Regions from separate parts of the Homo sapiens genome. Here all the other regions are linked to region 1. Evidence: fine-mapped expression QTL. A gene starts in region 1. Each other region holds a variant in brackets. All regions are shown on one strand. Distances are from middle to middle.

Region 1 (5,452 bases):
CTGCAGCTTATTTTGCTATTTGTCCCCCTTGGGGAGCTGGAGGTCTTTGGTACTTGAACAAATTTGCCATTGTGTTTTGCTACTACACGTCTATGGTCCCTTAAATTATACAACTCAAGAGGGTGAACATCTGTCTCCCTGGGATCGCTGCCAAAAGGGAGGTGCAGCTCCTCCTTCTATCCCCGTCCTTGTCCTGTCGGGCCGGCAGTGAGGCAAGAAGCACCAGTCATTCATTCAACAAATAGTTTTTGGACCTACTACATGCCAGGCACTGCTTCAGGCACGTCAGTGTCTCCTTCTGGCTCTCCCTGAATTCCTCCCTCCATCCACCACCCCTTTATATGGTGAGTGATCTCAGATGCCGCATCCAGCCGGATCATCCTGCAATGTTAGCATTGAGCACTTACTGTACAGATGGGTACTGCACTTCGAGAGTTATCGACAGAATGCTGAGCCCTGTCCTTGCCTTCAAGGAAAAGTGGTAAGGTGGGGCGTAGTGGCTCACACCTGTTATCCTAGCACTTTGGGGGGCCGAGGCAGGAGGATCCCTTGAGCCCAGGAGTTCGAAACCAGCTTGGGCAACCTAGGGAGACCATGTCTCTAAAAAAGTTTTAAAAAATTAAAAATAAAAAGAGTGGTGCGCATGTATGAAAAGTTAAACACCTCCACGCAGCCTACGGAGAAGTGATTGCAAGGAACCACTGTATGAGCGGCAAGCAACATAAGTCAAGGGTGAAGGGTCCTGCCTGAAAAAGGGGAGGCGGGAGCTGAGCTCGGAAGGACCAGTGGCACTTGGCATCAGAGTGGACAGCAGAGCAAATACCTGGAGGGCAGAAAGTGCCCAAAAGTGCCCCTCGGCTTGGCTGAAAGGGTGGTTGCTTGTGGAGGAGCAGTGGGGTAGAAAAGACCAGAAAGGCATCGCCTGAGATGGGAAGGGCTGGCAAAGCCGGGCTCTGAGGTATGGGAAAATCCTTCTCAGGTCAGAGCTGAAGCACTCGTGCTTCTCAGATCGGATCCGACCTTCAGACATCTAAAATTAGGCTTCTGCCAATTAACTTTTCCCACTGCTAGAACCCCGACACATTTACAGTTGCAGAGACATCGTTCAGCTTCTTTAAAAGACTCTTCAGTGTTATTACAATATTTTTGTGATCTCTCTGCAGCAAGGTCTATTGGTTCCTGTATCTCCAGCACCCCCAGGAAGGTGCTCAGCCTGAGCTTGTTAATGGAAGGGCAGGAGGGAGGAAGAAAGGAAGGTTAAGTTAAATAAGTTCTAAGTAAAGCTCATGGCAAAGTGTTCTTTCCCTTCAGGAGGGCCGCTCTGTAATAATAAGCACGAAGCAATTACATTCTGCCGTGTGGTTATTAAATTTTGGGGAAACAAATATAATAAAATGTAGACATTTGTAGGGAGGTTGGAGATAAAATAAAAATGGAGGATAAAAATAAAATCGATAACCGCAGGTTGCTCAGAGTCTAACCTAAAGGATGTTAGGGGGAGAAAGGAACGCTGCCCTCCCCAGGCTTCCCAAGCCTCCCCAGGAAGTGGCCGGAGCCTGGGCTGGGGAATCTGCCCAGCAGGGGTTCAACTCCTGAGTCCACCTCTCCCCTCTGGGGCCGCGGTGAGACCCCGCAAGAGCAGGAGCACTCCCACTCACCATCAGCCCTAGGGGTGAGACACTTAGCCAGGGGCAGCGCTGCGACAGCTTTTGGAAGTATTATTATTATTATCATTATTGCTAGAGATGGGGGGGGGGAGGTCTTACTAGGTTGCCCAGGCTGCTCTCGAACTCCTGGCCTCAAGCGATCCGCCTGCCTCGGCCTCCCCCAGTGCTGGGGTTATAAGCGTGAGCCACCGCGCCCGGCCTTAACTTGCTTTCATTGTACACCAATTCCTAAGGGAATTGGAAGCAGCAAGCAGGAACGCTCCCTCTTATGGAAAGAAGAGCCCAGGGCCCTGGTCATGACAGGTTCAGGTGCCAAAAAGGAGACGGGAAGAAAACGTGAGGCGCCAGAACAACAGGTTCTACAAGGTGCACACGAGGGTCCCTGCCATTGAATGAAGAATTTTCTGTGTGGATGCCCCTGCGCAGGTCCAATGAAAGCCGTGGAGAATAAGCGTTAGCTCTTCAAACTGAATCTGAGCTAAAACCTAGCAAAGCCAGGCTGGGGTCTGAGGGGTTGCGGGGGAAGACAGGAAGGGGTGGACGGGGAAGAGGCGGGGGTCCTAGGAGGAAGGGATGGGGAGGAGCGAGAGGAGGGAGGCGGAGGGAGGGCGGCAGCCAGGATGGTCCATTCCATTCTTGGAGCTGCACTGTTGACTTCGACCACAAGGGGGCAGGGCTGCTGAAATTGGAAGTGCGAACGCCTACATGAGTCTTGATCCTCGGCAGGCACCGTACCCAGTTTCCTCCGTTGGGAGGGTTTAACTGCCCGGAAACGGAAGTCTCGTTCTTTTTCGTCCTTTTCCCCGGTTGCTGCTTGCTGTGAGTGTCTCTAGGGTGATACGTGGGTGAGAAAGGTAATCTGGGGCAATCCACTGCCAGGTGAAATCTGGGGACCCCAGGTCCGCGTGGAGGGTGTCGGGGAGGAGAAGGGGAGTGCGATGGGGCCGATATTTCGGGGGAGAGCGGGAAAACGGGGTTCGCTGCCAGCCCCCGCGCCGTGTTAACGCCGAGGACTGTTTCCCGCAGGTCCTGGTCCGCGCCAGAGCCCAGCGCGCCTCGTCGCCATGGTGAGTACAGTCCCTGCCTGGCGCCTTCCCGGGGTGGGCTCGTGGGGCCCCGGGGCGAGGGCGAGAGAGCCTCCCAAGGATCTCCTGAGGCCGGGAGAAGCTGGTGGACTGGGCCATCGCCGGGAGACGTGTCTCTTTCCTCTCTGTTCACCCGCTTCCTTTGTGTTGCAGCCTCGGAAAATTGAGGAAATCAAGGACTTCCTGCTCACAGCCCGACGAAAGGATGCCAAATGTAAGTGGTTGCTCCGAAGGTTCAAGAAGAGCGGTGCCTAGCCTGGCACCGCTCCGGGAGCGTCTTCCCCGGAATGTCAGGCAGGAGACGGTTAGGCCGTCTGGGTGTGTGCCTGGCCCTCTGGGAGCAGTGGTTTCATCCTGTTTCCCATGAGAAAGACCTGTGGGGGGCACGTTGAGGCCCTGGAATTTCTAGGACCATCTTTAGCTAATCGCGATCATCTCAGAGGCCGCCCTGAGTTCAGTTTTCTTTCGTATAATATAGTAAATTGTCGGAACGGAATCTCCACTCCGCGAAAGCCTCAAAACACACGTCCCATAAACACTGTTTAGGTTCTCTGCAGTTGTGCAAAATCTTAACACAAAATCCATTTTGTAATAAAGTGCTGGATATTTGCATGTAATGTATCGAGCACGGCACACTGTGTAGTATGGTCGTTTACCTCGTGATCCTGTGGTCGCTGGCCAGTGTCAGAAGGTATCATACCTATCTAATCCAGAAAAATATTTAAAAAAATTTTTTTTTTTCTTTGAGACAGTCTGGCTCTGTCGCCCAGGCTGGATTGCAGTGGTGCGATCTTGGCTCACTGCAATTACCGCCTCCCAGGTTCAAGCGATCCCCCTGCCTCAAAGTAGCTGGGCGCGCCACCATGCCTAGCTGATTTTTGTGTTTTTGGTAGAGACAGAGTTTCACCATGTTGGCCAGGCTGGTCTCGAACTCCTAACCTCAGATGATCCACCTGCCTCCGCCTCCCAGAGTGCTGGGATTACAGGTGTGAGCCACTGTGCCCCGCCAAGATCAAAATTTGAAGCAGGGCTTCTACTGAATGTATATCGCATTACCACCATTGTAAAGTCACAGAGTTTAAGTTGGACTGTCATAGGTCTGTTTCCCAGCTTGTACATACAGGGGAAAGAAGGTGATTAATGAAAAACCTTAAACAGCAGGTTTTCGATGGATAGGTGCCAATCTCTGCTGCCCACTTACTTAAATTTTTACACCAAGTGTGAGAGGTAGTTGTGTTACTCCTTTGTGATACTTGAAGGAGATTGGGGGGGCTTGTGTTTGATACAAGCTAGGTCTTGAGTTATGTTGTTACTTTAACCCAGTCATCTTTTTTCAGCTGACTGAGAATCAGGTCACATGTGGAAGTGAGGTTGCATGGGACAGGCCTGTTAAGGTGGGCTAAGACACCAGCCGTCTCTAATGCTCTGCCAGCCGTGGTGCCAGACGGTGGTTGGTGTACAGGGAGAGTCTTTCAATGAGTTGGGGGTAGGCAGAGATGGGGGTCATATTTGTGTCCCCATTACCCAAAACAGGCTGTCACCTTTGAGGTAGTGACCACCTGTGGGGACAAATAGCATCTGGTGGGAATGATGACTGTTGGCTAGTGTTTTGTGTAAAGAGATGAGGTTATCAGGTCAGTTTTATTTCAGACCATATGGGGTCACTGCCTAGTTTGAAGCCCAACTCTACCTGCAGGTAACTTACCCTTCTCAGCAAGTTAAACACGACACCACCGTTTGATTGTGTTTTAAAAGGGTGGTGGTCCGGGCGTGGTGGCTCATGCCTATAATTCCAGCACTTTGGGAGGCCAAAGCGGACAGATCGCTTGAACCAGGAGTTCAAGACCAACCTGGGCGACATGGCAAAACCCCATTTCTACTAAAAATAAAAAAATTAGCCAGGCATGGTGGCACACGCCTGCAGTCCCAGCTACTCAGGAGGCTGAGGCAGGAGAATCAGTTGAACCAAGGAGACGGAGGTTGCAGTGAGCTGAGATTGTCTCACTGCACTCCAGCCTGGGTGACAGAGCGAGACTGTCTCACAAAAAAAATTGGGAACCTTCATTTTAGATGATGTGGCTTTAAAGGTAGTGGTCACAGTCCCCTGGGGACAGTAAAGTGTCAGTAGCTGTTTGTTGAAAAAACTTTTTAAAATGGTTGTATTAATTTTTAACGTGTAATAGGCATAGCGTAAAAGTTACCATTTACACTGGGTATGGTGGTTCCCATCTGTAATCCCAGCACTTTGGGAGACTGAGGCAGATGGATGAGACTAGCCTGGGCATCATAGTGAGACCCTGTCTCTATAAAAGAAAAAAGTTAGCCGGGCGTGTGCTGGTGGTCCTAGCTACTCAGGAGGCTGAGGTAGGATTGCTTGAATCCAGGAAATTGAGGCTATAGTGAGCCACGATTATGCTACTGCACTCCGGGCTGGGCAACAAAGCATAATTGTACAGTTCAGTGGCATTCAGTAAATACACATTGTTGAGCAGCTGCCACCATCACCGCCCATCTCCAGAACTTTATCTTCCCAAACTGAAACTCCCTCTGTTAAACACCAGCTCCCCATTCTTCCCCAGCCCCTGGCAACCACCTTCCAATTTGTCCCTGAATGTGACTGCTCTGGATACCCCATACAAGTGGGTCTGCTATTGCATATTTGACCTTTTGTGACTGGCTTCTCTTCACATGTCCTCAAGC
Region 2 (5,452 bases), 91 kb before region 1:
TGTAATGTTTTGGTGAGAGACAGCTAAATAATATTTAGGGTGTTCCAACAGGGTCAATATGGGTCAAAGGACAACATCTGTTAGCTCAGAAGAAATCTGTCAGCACAGAGCATATGCGTTGGCCGGGCACGGCGGCTCATGCCTGTAATCCCAACACTTTGGGAGGCCAAGGTGGGAGAATCGCTTGAGCACATTTCAAAAATCAGCCTGGACAACATAGGGATATCCCTGTCTCTACAAAAATAAAAAAAAAAATGAGCCACGCCTGGTGGCACGTGCCTGTGGTCCCAGCTACTTGAGGGGCTGAGATGAAAGGATTGCTTGTTGAGATCAAGGGTGCAGTGAGCCGTGATCACGCCACCGCATTCCAGCCTGGGAGACAGAGCAAGACCCTGTCTCAAACAAAAAAAATGTGTATACACAGGGCCCCTGGCCACCGTCCCCGCTCGAAACCCCACGCAAGTGTGTGGGAAGTGCCCTGCCCCACACACAGTAATCTGTCTGCTCCTCCCAGGGTGAACTCCGTATGAATGACAGCCTGGCAGTCTGTGTGTGCTTCCCCACTAGGGTAGGGGCCCAGAAAAGGGCTCTCCAAAGTGGGCTGATAACATTTTGGACTGTTAAGTCTTTTCATCCTAGGGGGCCTTCCTGGTGGAAGCAGGCTTCAAAGAAAGATTTATGTACACCACAGAGCTCCAGCATCTCCTACATTTAAAAGTCTGGGACACTCTCAAAGGACCAAATAAGTTGCATTGGAACAAAAGTGACAAACAGGAAGGCGGGATAGGTAGGGGGCGGGTAGTGCCATGGGGCTTGGACACTGTGGCTGGCAAGTCATTTCACCCTTCTGAAACTGGTTTTTTTAATTTTATAGTTAAAGGATCTTGTTATGTTGCCCAGGCTGATCTCAAACACCTGGGTTCAAGCGATCCCCCTGCTTCGCCTCCCAAAGCGCTGGGATTCCACTGGCCGGCTTGAAACCCTCTTATTTGTGGGATGAAGACTGCCCAGCCCACAGGTTGTTTTGAAGATCACATGGGGTGATGGAAATAAAAATGCTTTCAAATAGCAAGCTGCGGCCGGGCACAGTGGCTCACGCTGTAATCTCAGCACTTTGGGAGGCTGAGGCGGGTGGATCACGAGGTCAGGAGATCTCTCGAGACCATACTGGCTAACACAGTGAAACCCCATCTCTACTAAACAAAAATAGAAAAATTAGCCAAGCGGCTACTCGGAGGCAGAAGAATGGCGCGAACCCGACAAGCGGAGCTTGCAGTGAGCCAACATGGCGCCACTGAACTCCAGCCTGGGCGACAGAGCAAGACTGTCTCAAAAAAAAAGTAAAAAAAAATAAAAATAGCAAGCTGCTACAGAATGGAATATAAGCTCCTAATAAAATTGGACATGACCTGACACCGAGTACCAAGCTAAACACTTCACGTGCTTTATCTCAGCGCCTCTCAGTTAATCTCATCGTCACATGCCTATGGGGCCAATCCATAACTTCTTCACTTTGCATCTGTGGAGCTCAGAGGTCTTGTACGGCCTGGCCCCACAGTCGGTAAATGAAACACAGACCCTGGCCGGGTGCGGTGGCTCACACCTGTAATTCCAGCACTCTGGGAGGCCAAGGCAGGCAGATCACGAGGTCAGGAAATTGAGACCATCCTAGCTAACATGGTGAAACCCGGTCTCTACTAAAAATACAAAAAAATCAGCCAGGCATGGTGGTGGGCGCCTGTAGCCCCAGCTACTTGGGAGGCTGAGGCAGGAGAACGGCGTGACTCCGAGGTGGAGCTTGCAGTGAGCCGAGATGGAGCCCCCACACTCCAGCCTGGGAGACAGAGTGAGACTCTTGTCTCAAAAAAAGACCCTGATTCCAAACCCGGTGTTCATTCATTCCTTGTTCAACAACGATTCAGCAAATGTTTGCTGCCATCAGCAGAGTTCAGGGTATCAAAAAGAAAGCAGTGGATGGGAGACACCCACTCTTGCTCTCATAAAACTCAGTCTATTAGAACCATCACCACAGGAGAAAGGATAATTTTCCAAGCATTTACAAGGCACCAAGGACCGTGCTAGGTACTTTCCATGATATAGGAACTAATGTTATTCCCATTATTTCAATGAAAACCGAAATTCAAAAAGGC[G/A]AAATGATAAACCCAGGTCACACAGCTACGGTGGAGCTTGGATTTGAACCCAAGTCCTGGACTCCAGAGGCCTTATTCTCCCTTGCTGCTACGCTAGAGAAACAAAAAGCTTTCATTGTGATGATTTAAAGCTTAACCCTCACTATAAGGATAGTGACCCCATATATTACCATGTTGTGTCTGGAATTTGTGGATTCTTGGTCTTACTAACCTCAAGAATGAAGCCGTGAACCCTCGCACTGAGTATTACAGTTCTTAAAGGCGGCGTGTCCGGAGTTTCTTCCTTCTGGTGGGTTAGTGGTCTCGCTAAGCTTCAAGAGTAAAGCTGCAGACCTTCATGGTGAGTGTTACAGCTCATAAAGGCAATATAAACCCAAAGTGAGCAATAGCAATATTTATTGCAAAATAGTGCAGAGTGAAAGAACAAACCTTCCACAGCACAGAAAGATAACCAAACGGGTTGCTACCGCTAGCTCCGGCAGCCTGCTTTTATTCTCTTATCTGGCCCCACCCACATCCTGCTGATTGGTCCATTTTACAGAGAGCCCATTGGTCTGTTTTACAGAGAGCTGATTGGTCCGTTTTGACAGGGTGCTGATTGGTGCGTTTACAATCCCTGAGCTAGACACAAAAGTTCTCCACATCCCCACTAGATTAGCTAGATACACAGTGTCGATTGGTGTATTTACAAACCCTGAGCTAGACACAGAGTGCTGATTGGTGCATTTACAAACCTTGAGCTAGATACAGAGTGCCGATTGGTGCATTCACAATCCCTGAGCTAGACATAAAGATTCTCCAAGTCCCCACCAGATTCAGGAGCCCAGTTGGCTTCACCCAGTGGAGCCGCCTGCCCGCCCGGCGCCGTTCGCCCGCACTCCTCAGCCCTTGGGCGGTAGATGGGACTGGGCGCAGCGGAGCAGGGCGCGGCGCTTGTCAGGGAGGCTCGGACCGCGCAGTAGCCCACGGCGGGGGCGGGGGCGGGGGCGAGGGCAGGGGCGAGGCTCAGGCATGGCAGGCTGCAGGTACCGAGCCCTGCCCCGCGGGGAGGCAGTTAAGGCCCTGCGAGAAATCGAGCGCAGCGCCGGTGGGCCAGCACTGCTGGAGGACCCGACGCACCCTCCGCAGCTGCTGGCCCGGGTGCTAAGCCCCTCACTGTCGGCCGGCCGCTCCGAGTGCGGGACCCGCCAAACCCACGCCCGGGGAACTCTACCAGCAAGCGCTGTGCGCAGCCCCGGTTAGCCCCCGTGCCTCTTGCTCCACACCTCCCCGCAGCCTGAGGGAGCCGGCTCCAGCCTCCACCATCCCAGGAAGGGGCTCCCACAGTGCAGCAGCGGGCTGAAGGGCTCCTCAAGCGCGGCCACAGTGGGCGCCGAGGCCGAGGAGGCACCAAGAGCGAGCGAGGGCTGTGAGGGCTGCCAGCATGCTGTCACCTCTCAATGTCAGGTTTTCAGAGTCTAAGTTTGTGAAATTTAGAAAGAAGAGGAGAATCGCTGGGTATAGATGTAAAACAATGCTTTGTAGGAAGGATCTAACATTTTCTTTCAGGATGAGGGCAGGAGTGCGTATCTGAGGCTTTGGCTCAAAGACAAAGAGGGAGAGAGAGGGCTTCACCTCATGATCTACAACATTTCCACGATGTACCACCGCGTCCCGGCTCCCCGATCCCCTTGGAAGAATTCGTTCTCTCGGTCAGAGCGACCTCGCACGCTGATCGGTCGAGGGACCCGCCATGCTCAGGGCTCAGCACCCCCGAGTTAAGGAGACAAGAGCAGCCATCTCCCGGCCCCCAAGCACCCGGACTCACACCCGCCTCTGCTGCGACTTCACCAAGGAAGGAAAAATGGCTCGAAATGCCTGTACATTAAGAAGCGTATAATTATGCATAATAAAAAGACGCCGGCCCTTGTGTATATAAACACAGCTTTGACTGAGTGCCTTCTCCCAGGCAGCCCTTCTGGCTCTCAACAGCAGCAGTGGAACATCTTAAACATATGGTCGCCATCCAGGCCTCCAGGCAGATCTGAACTGGGGAGGGGGTGGGGGCAGGGGCAGGCGGGAGGTGGAGACGGGACGGGGATACAGGAAAATCAGGAGATGGTTGTTTGGGGAAGAGGGTTACACGGAGAGCTGGTGGGCCAGGGGTCAGACATTTACAATCAGGACATAATCTGTGACCTGCCACCCCAAGTTGAGCTGTCTTTCTCTCTCCCTCCTCTGCCCCAGGCTCAATTTGCCCCCAAAGACAATAATAGGGAGTTCTGCCACCTGTCTCCGGGGAGCGGGAAGGAGAGCTGCTGAGTGGCAGGAATATTTCCTGGTTTTGATTTGGGGATCCTCTCATTTCTGTTTGCACTGATTTCAGCACCTGTCACCTGCAAGGCGCTGAGTAGGCAAGGAGGGAATCCCCCAGTGGATAAGCCACTTCCGATGGTGTAGCAGTTCAACAGGTGATCAAAGACACCCCCAATTTCAGTCAAGCTCCCAACCTTGGGTTCTCCAGCCTCAAGCTTTGCCTGGCCTGCCCATCAGGGTGTGGTCTTGCTGCCAGCTGCTCCTGACCAGGGTGGTGAGTCTTCAGGCTGGTGCTCAGCCTCCCCCGGGCCAACCCGGAGTTTGTGCAGTGCCCCTCAGGCTCCTGGAGACCCCATGCTGCACCATGAAAGGGCCTGCTCACCACAGTAGAGGGCTCTGTTCCTAGCCTTCCCCACCATCACCGCCACCTCCCCACACAATCCATCACTTCTCTGCAAAGCTGGACAGCGGAGCAAAGCTGGCTCCGAACTGGGAAGCTGGGGAGCCAGTGGAGCTGGTCTGCGCATCCTCCTTGGGCCGTCACTAGCAGGCCTGTCTCAGGCAGATCTGTGGTCCAGCTATGCTGTCGCTCTATTTGGGGTGGGGGGCGGTGAGGAGGAAGTGGATGCTGGAGGGGACAGTGCTTGGTCTCCTCATCCTGCAGCATATGTAGAGTCCTCTCCACACCCCAGACAAACTGGAGATGCTGGTCCTGAAGCGAAGACTTGGGTGCAAGTGTTTTATTTGGGAGATGACCCCAGGAAGCAGGAGTGAGGGGCAGGAAGAGTGAGACTCGGAAGGGAGAAAAGCAAGGAGGGGTGCATTCTTGGGCTTGTCACTACTGTGGACAATGGGACTCAACCCCACTGGGACCCCTCTGCAAAGCCAGGCATGGGGTGCCTTGTAATGGTTCCTCTGGAAGACCGCAGACTAAGGCATTTTCCCACGGGCCCCTGCCCATGGGCTGAGGTTTGATTCTCCTGCTTTTCCAACTGCACCTGCAGGGA
Region 3 (5,452 bases), 270 kb before region 1:
CACAGCAGCCGGTCCATGGACTCCAGATCTAGAACCCATGCTGGGTAGAAACCCCTTCAACTGCTCAGGCAAGTCATTGGATCTATCTGAGCCTGACTGGATTTTTCATTTGCAGGAGAAAGTTGACGAATCTGTCCCCATGTTCCTCTCAAGCCCTAGTTATAGGACTTCTGAGGTAAAGGACAAGTTGGGAGAGTATCGTAGTTGGGCTGTTCTGGAAAGGGATGTTAGTCCTCCTGGAGCTGGTTACTAGTACAGGATTCTTGGGGTTACAAATGATGGAAAATCAAGTCTAACTCAAGAAAATTTGCTTCATGCCACCAGAAAGCTGAGAGTATTGGTTTTCTAATTGCTGTTGTAACAAATTACCACAAAGTGAGTGGATTAAAACAACATAAAGTGTTATTTTGCAGCTCTGGAGGCCAGAAATCCAGAAATGGGTTTATGTGGCTAAAACCAAGATGGTGGCAAGGCTGCATTCCTTCTAAAAGATGTAGGGAAGAATTCATTCCTTGCCTTTTGGGTTCTGAGAATGCCTGAAATTCCTTGGCTCACAGCCCACTTCCAGCAATGGCATAACTTTGACCTTTATTTCCATGGCCACATCTCCCTCCCTGACTCTAACTGTTCTGCTTCCCCTTGTGATAACACTGAGCCAACCCATATAATCTGGGGTAATCTCCCCATCTCAAAATTCTTAATCATATATGCAGTACCCCTTTTGTCATGTAAGGTAGCATATTCACAGATTCTAGAGGTGAGGATGTGGATGTCTTTGGGGGCCATTATTCTTTCTGCCAACTTTGGGGAGCAGACTTCAGGTGCTCCTGAAGATCCAGCACAAGGAAGAGGGTGCAAGTGGCTCAAACAGTATCATCAGGGTCTTTCTTTCATCTTTATCTCTGCAGTCTGCTTCCTTCATGTTAGTCATATTCTCAAGGCCATTTCAAATAGCTTTCCCCCTGCTAGCCAAGAAAAATGCTGCCTCTAGCCCTCAATTATGGCATTTCAGATTAGTAGATATTAATAGTTTGGGAAAAAATAATCTTTCCCCCTCTATCTTTCTCTCTGCCCTGGTCCAAATACCAGTCTCTGTGTAGATCCCTTGAATTAACAAAGGGATGCTTGGGAAGAAGGGCACCGGGGAGATATACAAATCCTTGAGACAGCTAGGGTGGGGGTTCATCAACCTAATTTGTAGATTAATCAGCATGTACCCATTTAGTAATCCAAGCTGGTGATGCCAGACACATCAGCTACAAAGTGCTCTAGCAGCAAGCCTGGTCATTATTTAGTCTCTTATAGATCAGGCCAACCACACAGAGCATGTGCAGGAATCCCAGCCCTGCTCAGCCCAGAGCATTGACATTTGTGGTTAAGCAGGGCCCCATGGAAGCCACACACCCGTCCCCCTTGGTTTCACCACGTGTCTCTGTAACTTTGAGGGAAAAGGACCCTCCCTCCTGGGATGGGATGATAATTAAGAGTAATTTCAGTCCTGTTGGGCTCCAGTTACAACAATTACAGGGTTCTGGATCAATTAATACTCACATTTGCATGGAGAAGATGGTGAAATTTAGAATGTAGACCCCCCATTTAGGAGCTATAGCTAGGGTGACCCTACAGCCAGGTGTGCTAGGGACAGTCGTGGTTTGCACCTGAATTATTCATAGTTCTGCTCTTCACTCTCAAAGTGGTCCCTGTTTAAATGATCAGTGTTACGGTTACCCTAATGTTAGTAGAAGTAGAAAAGAGTTTATTTTCCCCTTCTACTGTTTCACTTACCCCTGAACCAGGTGGGGGACTCTAAGGCAGCAGCTGGAGAAGACCCCCAAATCACACAGGTACCCCTCTTCCTTGTGCCGGCTGTAAAGCCAAGGAATAAACCAACCCTTCCCATTGCAGGGAGTGGGAAGCCAGTGATGTGGCTTCCTAGTAGCTGTCCCCAGCCTCTAGACTGTACCGTCTGGATCTGCAGAGGCCTGTTCACTGTCATGCCTTCATGCAGATCTCTGGGGTAAGTGCTCTGTTGCTGTAGGAAAATAACTTACAACTTTTCTTTGAATGTATTTACATGAATGCCTATACCTTTATTTAAATGCATAAATGTTGTCATTACATGATTCATGTGTATGTGTGTGTGTGTGTTTGTGCAGACTCTTAGTTTTTTTTCCTGTTAGTTTGACTTTCCTTGACACCTCTCCTCTGTCCTCCACCCATAACCACTAGAAATTCATGCTAATAGCCTAGTAGGGATCCTTCCACATTTTTCTTCATGATCATATTATCCTGTATAAATATATACATACACACACTACATGTGGTAGACATGTATGTACATACATGTATGTAACTTTTTATACACACCCACATGCATTCACTTATACACATGTGTGCACTTATACATGTATAGCCAGCCTTTTGTCATTATTTGTTTTGCAGAAATATATGATATTCAGTTTCTTGCATCTTGTTTTCCTCACTCAACAATACCTTGGGGAACTCTCTCTCTGTCCTCCAATATTGCTCTAATTGTTTTCAATAGGGCATAATATCGCATGGTATAAATGTACTATAATTTATGCACCCAGACCTCAAGAGTGACTGCTCACTTTGTTTTCATGGGAGAAATTTCCCACATTCACCAAATATAAATGTGTGACACTGGCCGGGCGCGGTGGCTCACGCCTGTAATCCCAGCACTTTGGGAGGCCGAGACGGGCGGATCAC[G/A]AGGTCAGGAGATCGAGACCATCCTGGCTAACATGGTGAAACCCCGTCTCTACTAAAAAAAAAAAATACAAAAATTAGCCGGGCATGGTGGCGTGCGCCTGTAGTCCCAGCTACACGGGAGGCTGAGGCAGGAGAATGGCGTGAACCCGGGAGGTGGAGCTTGCAGTGAGTCGAGATCACGCCACTGCACTCCAGCCTGGGCGACAGAGCGAAACTCCGTCTCAAAAAAAAAAAAAAAAAAAAAGTGTTACACTTTTGCCCTAATGCTCCTGACTCACATCTGATTCAAAAGTCTTTAAAAACACATGTCGATTTGAAAAATATAATCAGCTGCTATTTTTTCCAAGATGTCACACTGACCCACCATCAAACTGTCGGCACAGCTTGGTACACTTGTTCCCTACGCAGAGTCACAATCAGCCTTTTGTATTCTCTGGTGTTTGTTGTCTGATTGCAATTCTGAATTGGGGTGACCATCAAAACTGGGTGCCTACACAGGAGGCATCTCAATGTATTAGAGAGGGGCCAGTCTTTGGAACAGACAGACCTGGGTTCAAATTCTGATAACCATCACCTATAAGCTGGGAGATTTGGATAAATGCTCACCTTCCCCCAGCCCCTGTTTTCTTTGTCTTTCAGATAGAAATCATGATACCAACCACATAGAGCATTAAATGAGATTATGGGTGCACAGGGCCTGGTCCCAGGGGGCCCACTGCCCAGGTGGCTTTTCCCAACCACAAATTATGAATCATGTTGGACTTGAAGGGGAAAAGTTCAAATTGATCAATAGCGATGTCAGGGGCAAACAGTCCGAGTCAGATAAGCAAACAGAAACAGGTTGTTTTTGGAATAATTGGATGCCCTGTCTTTGTTTGCAGAGCAGCGTGTGCACCATGGATGTTTAAGGAAGCTTATTGCCAGCAATGTCCAGATGACTGGTGAGCCACAGCAAGAGAGGGGCCTGGCTGCGGGAGGGATCCAGAAAGCAGGGAGCTGATGGAGGTTTAGGATTAGGACCTGAGGAAGGGATGCTAGGGCAAGGATGCGGGAGGTAGCAGTGGCCTGAACCCTCCTACACTCTGGCCACAGACTTGATGTGGCAGGAGTAGTTGGGTGGGCATTTTTCCGCCTGGCAGCAGAGGTCGCTTTCTGTCCTCTCCCCACACCATACATCACACTTTCCAACTCCACCATACTCAACCCCCTAAGAAGAAGAAAGAGGAAATGAGCTCCACAACACAGGTCTGTTACGGACTGAATATGTGTGTCCCCTCAAAATGCATATATTGAAGCCCTAACACTCCAGTGGGATGGTATTTAGATGTGGGGACTTTGGGAAGTGATTAGGGTTAGATGAGGTCACAGGGTAAGGCCCCTATGATGGAATGAATGGCCTTATAAGAAGAGGAAGGAAAAGACTAGAGAGCATGCATGCGCTGTCAGTCTCTCTCCCTCCCTCCTTGCCACGGGAGGACACAGCAAGAAGGTGGCCATCTGCAAGCCAGGAAGAGAGGCCTCACCAGGACCCACATCAGCTGGCACCTTGATCTTGGACTTCCAGCTTCTAGAACTGTAAGAAATAAACGTCTATGGCATTCTGTTATGGAAGCCCAAGCTGACTGAGACTGCAGCCCTGCCTTTCCTTTTAGGGTACCCAAAATGGAGTCCTGTGGCCAACACAAGCCGTGTGCCTCATCTCTTGCCATGTTCCAGTAGGGGGATATAGCTGTGGCCAAGACAAGTGGGGAGGTATCTGGGGTGCTCACAGGCAGGGCCTGGAGAGGAGCCCTCTTCTGGGCAACTTACACAGGACTCTGAGATACTCCTCAGCATCTCCCCTCCTTGGTGCTAGGCATGGTGTCTTGCACACAGTGGGAGCTTTATATGTGTTTGGTGAGACATTGATTAAAAATAATAGACAGCGAATACACGCAGATGTGGAGAGAGACGGAACCAGCAGTTGCTAGATTGGAGGAAAGAGTGTATTCCCGCCTCAGCCCCGCCCTGTCCACAGCTATGAATTAATCTGCGGTGGGGAGCGGGATTCCTTCATTAAAATCTCCAAAAAGGGAGTCATATTAACAGCCAGGCACACCGTTCTTTTCCCTCAAGGTAAGAAGATTCATGGCTCAAACTTACATTTTATCACGCACAACCGAATAAAAATGATCAATTTCCCTGCCCGCCTTACAGCATCCTTCCACAGTTATTAAAGTCTCTAAAAATGTTTTCCTTAAAAAAAAAAGGTTAAAAGAAAGAGAGGTGCAGAGAGTGCAAACCAAGAAGAAGCTGGGAAATGCTGCCTAGCTGAGGGCTATCCATCTTGTCAGCTGCAGACCACATAACCTTGATGTCACTATATTTTCTGCTCATATCCAAATTTACAATTTGCCAGCCAAGGATATGGAAATGCCAAACCTCCCCCTTGGAGGTGGATGCTGGAAGGTTCTTAAAGAGCCTGAGAGAGAGGAGCATCCTAGCTCTGAAAACTCCAAAAAGACACTGAGCCTGCTGCTGGACTCTTAGCAATTTTCCCTGAGTTGGGAAAAACCAGCCTCCAAGGTCAAGGAGATGGATTTCAACTCCAGGGCCACACACACATTCAGCAAGAGCCCCTTTGTTCATTGAAGAACAAGCAGGTTTCCACTTTGGAGGGCCAGAAATGTACCTGTGCAAGTTAGGAAATGGGAGGGTTGGGCCACGCAACAAACAAACTCTG

What was found. PIP is the estimated chance that this variant, and not a neighbour inherited with it, causes the effect.
Region 2: its variant is fine-mapped to the expression of RPL38 in whole blood (INTERVAL, PIP above 0.99).
Region 3: its variant is fine-mapped to the expression of RPL38 in whole blood (INTERVAL, PIP above 0.99).

Annotation. Positions count from the first base shown.
Region 1 is chr17:74,201,225-74,206,676 of GRCh38, forward strand. It overlaps RPL38 (ribosomal protein L38), which reads left to right and starts at 2,454. Exons shown (of 5, transcript NM_000999.4): 1 at 2,454-2,521; 2 at 2,694-2,734; 3 at 2,906-2,966. The coding sequence starts at 2,732. RefSeq lists enhancers at 1,690-2,193, 3,202-3,706, 3,707-4,210.
Region 2 is chr17:74,110,285-74,115,736 of GRCh38, forward strand. LINC02074 (long intergenic non-protein coding RNA 2074) reads right to left here and starts at 2,615. Exons shown (of 5, transcript NR_184085.1): 1 at 2,362-2,615. The variant G/A (reference allele first, on the strand shown) is at 2,151.
Region 3 is chr17:73,933,539-73,938,990 of GRCh38, forward strand. All of the region lies in intron 5 of LOC105371888 (a long non-coding RNA gene), which reads right to left. It overlaps LOC107985081 (a long non-coding RNA gene), which reads left to right. Exons shown (of 3, transcript XR_001752999.1): 3 at 1-108. Among named protein-coding and RNA genes, the nearest start is that of LINC00469, 110 kb to the left of the region's middle. The variant G/A (reference allele first, on the strand shown) is at 2,731.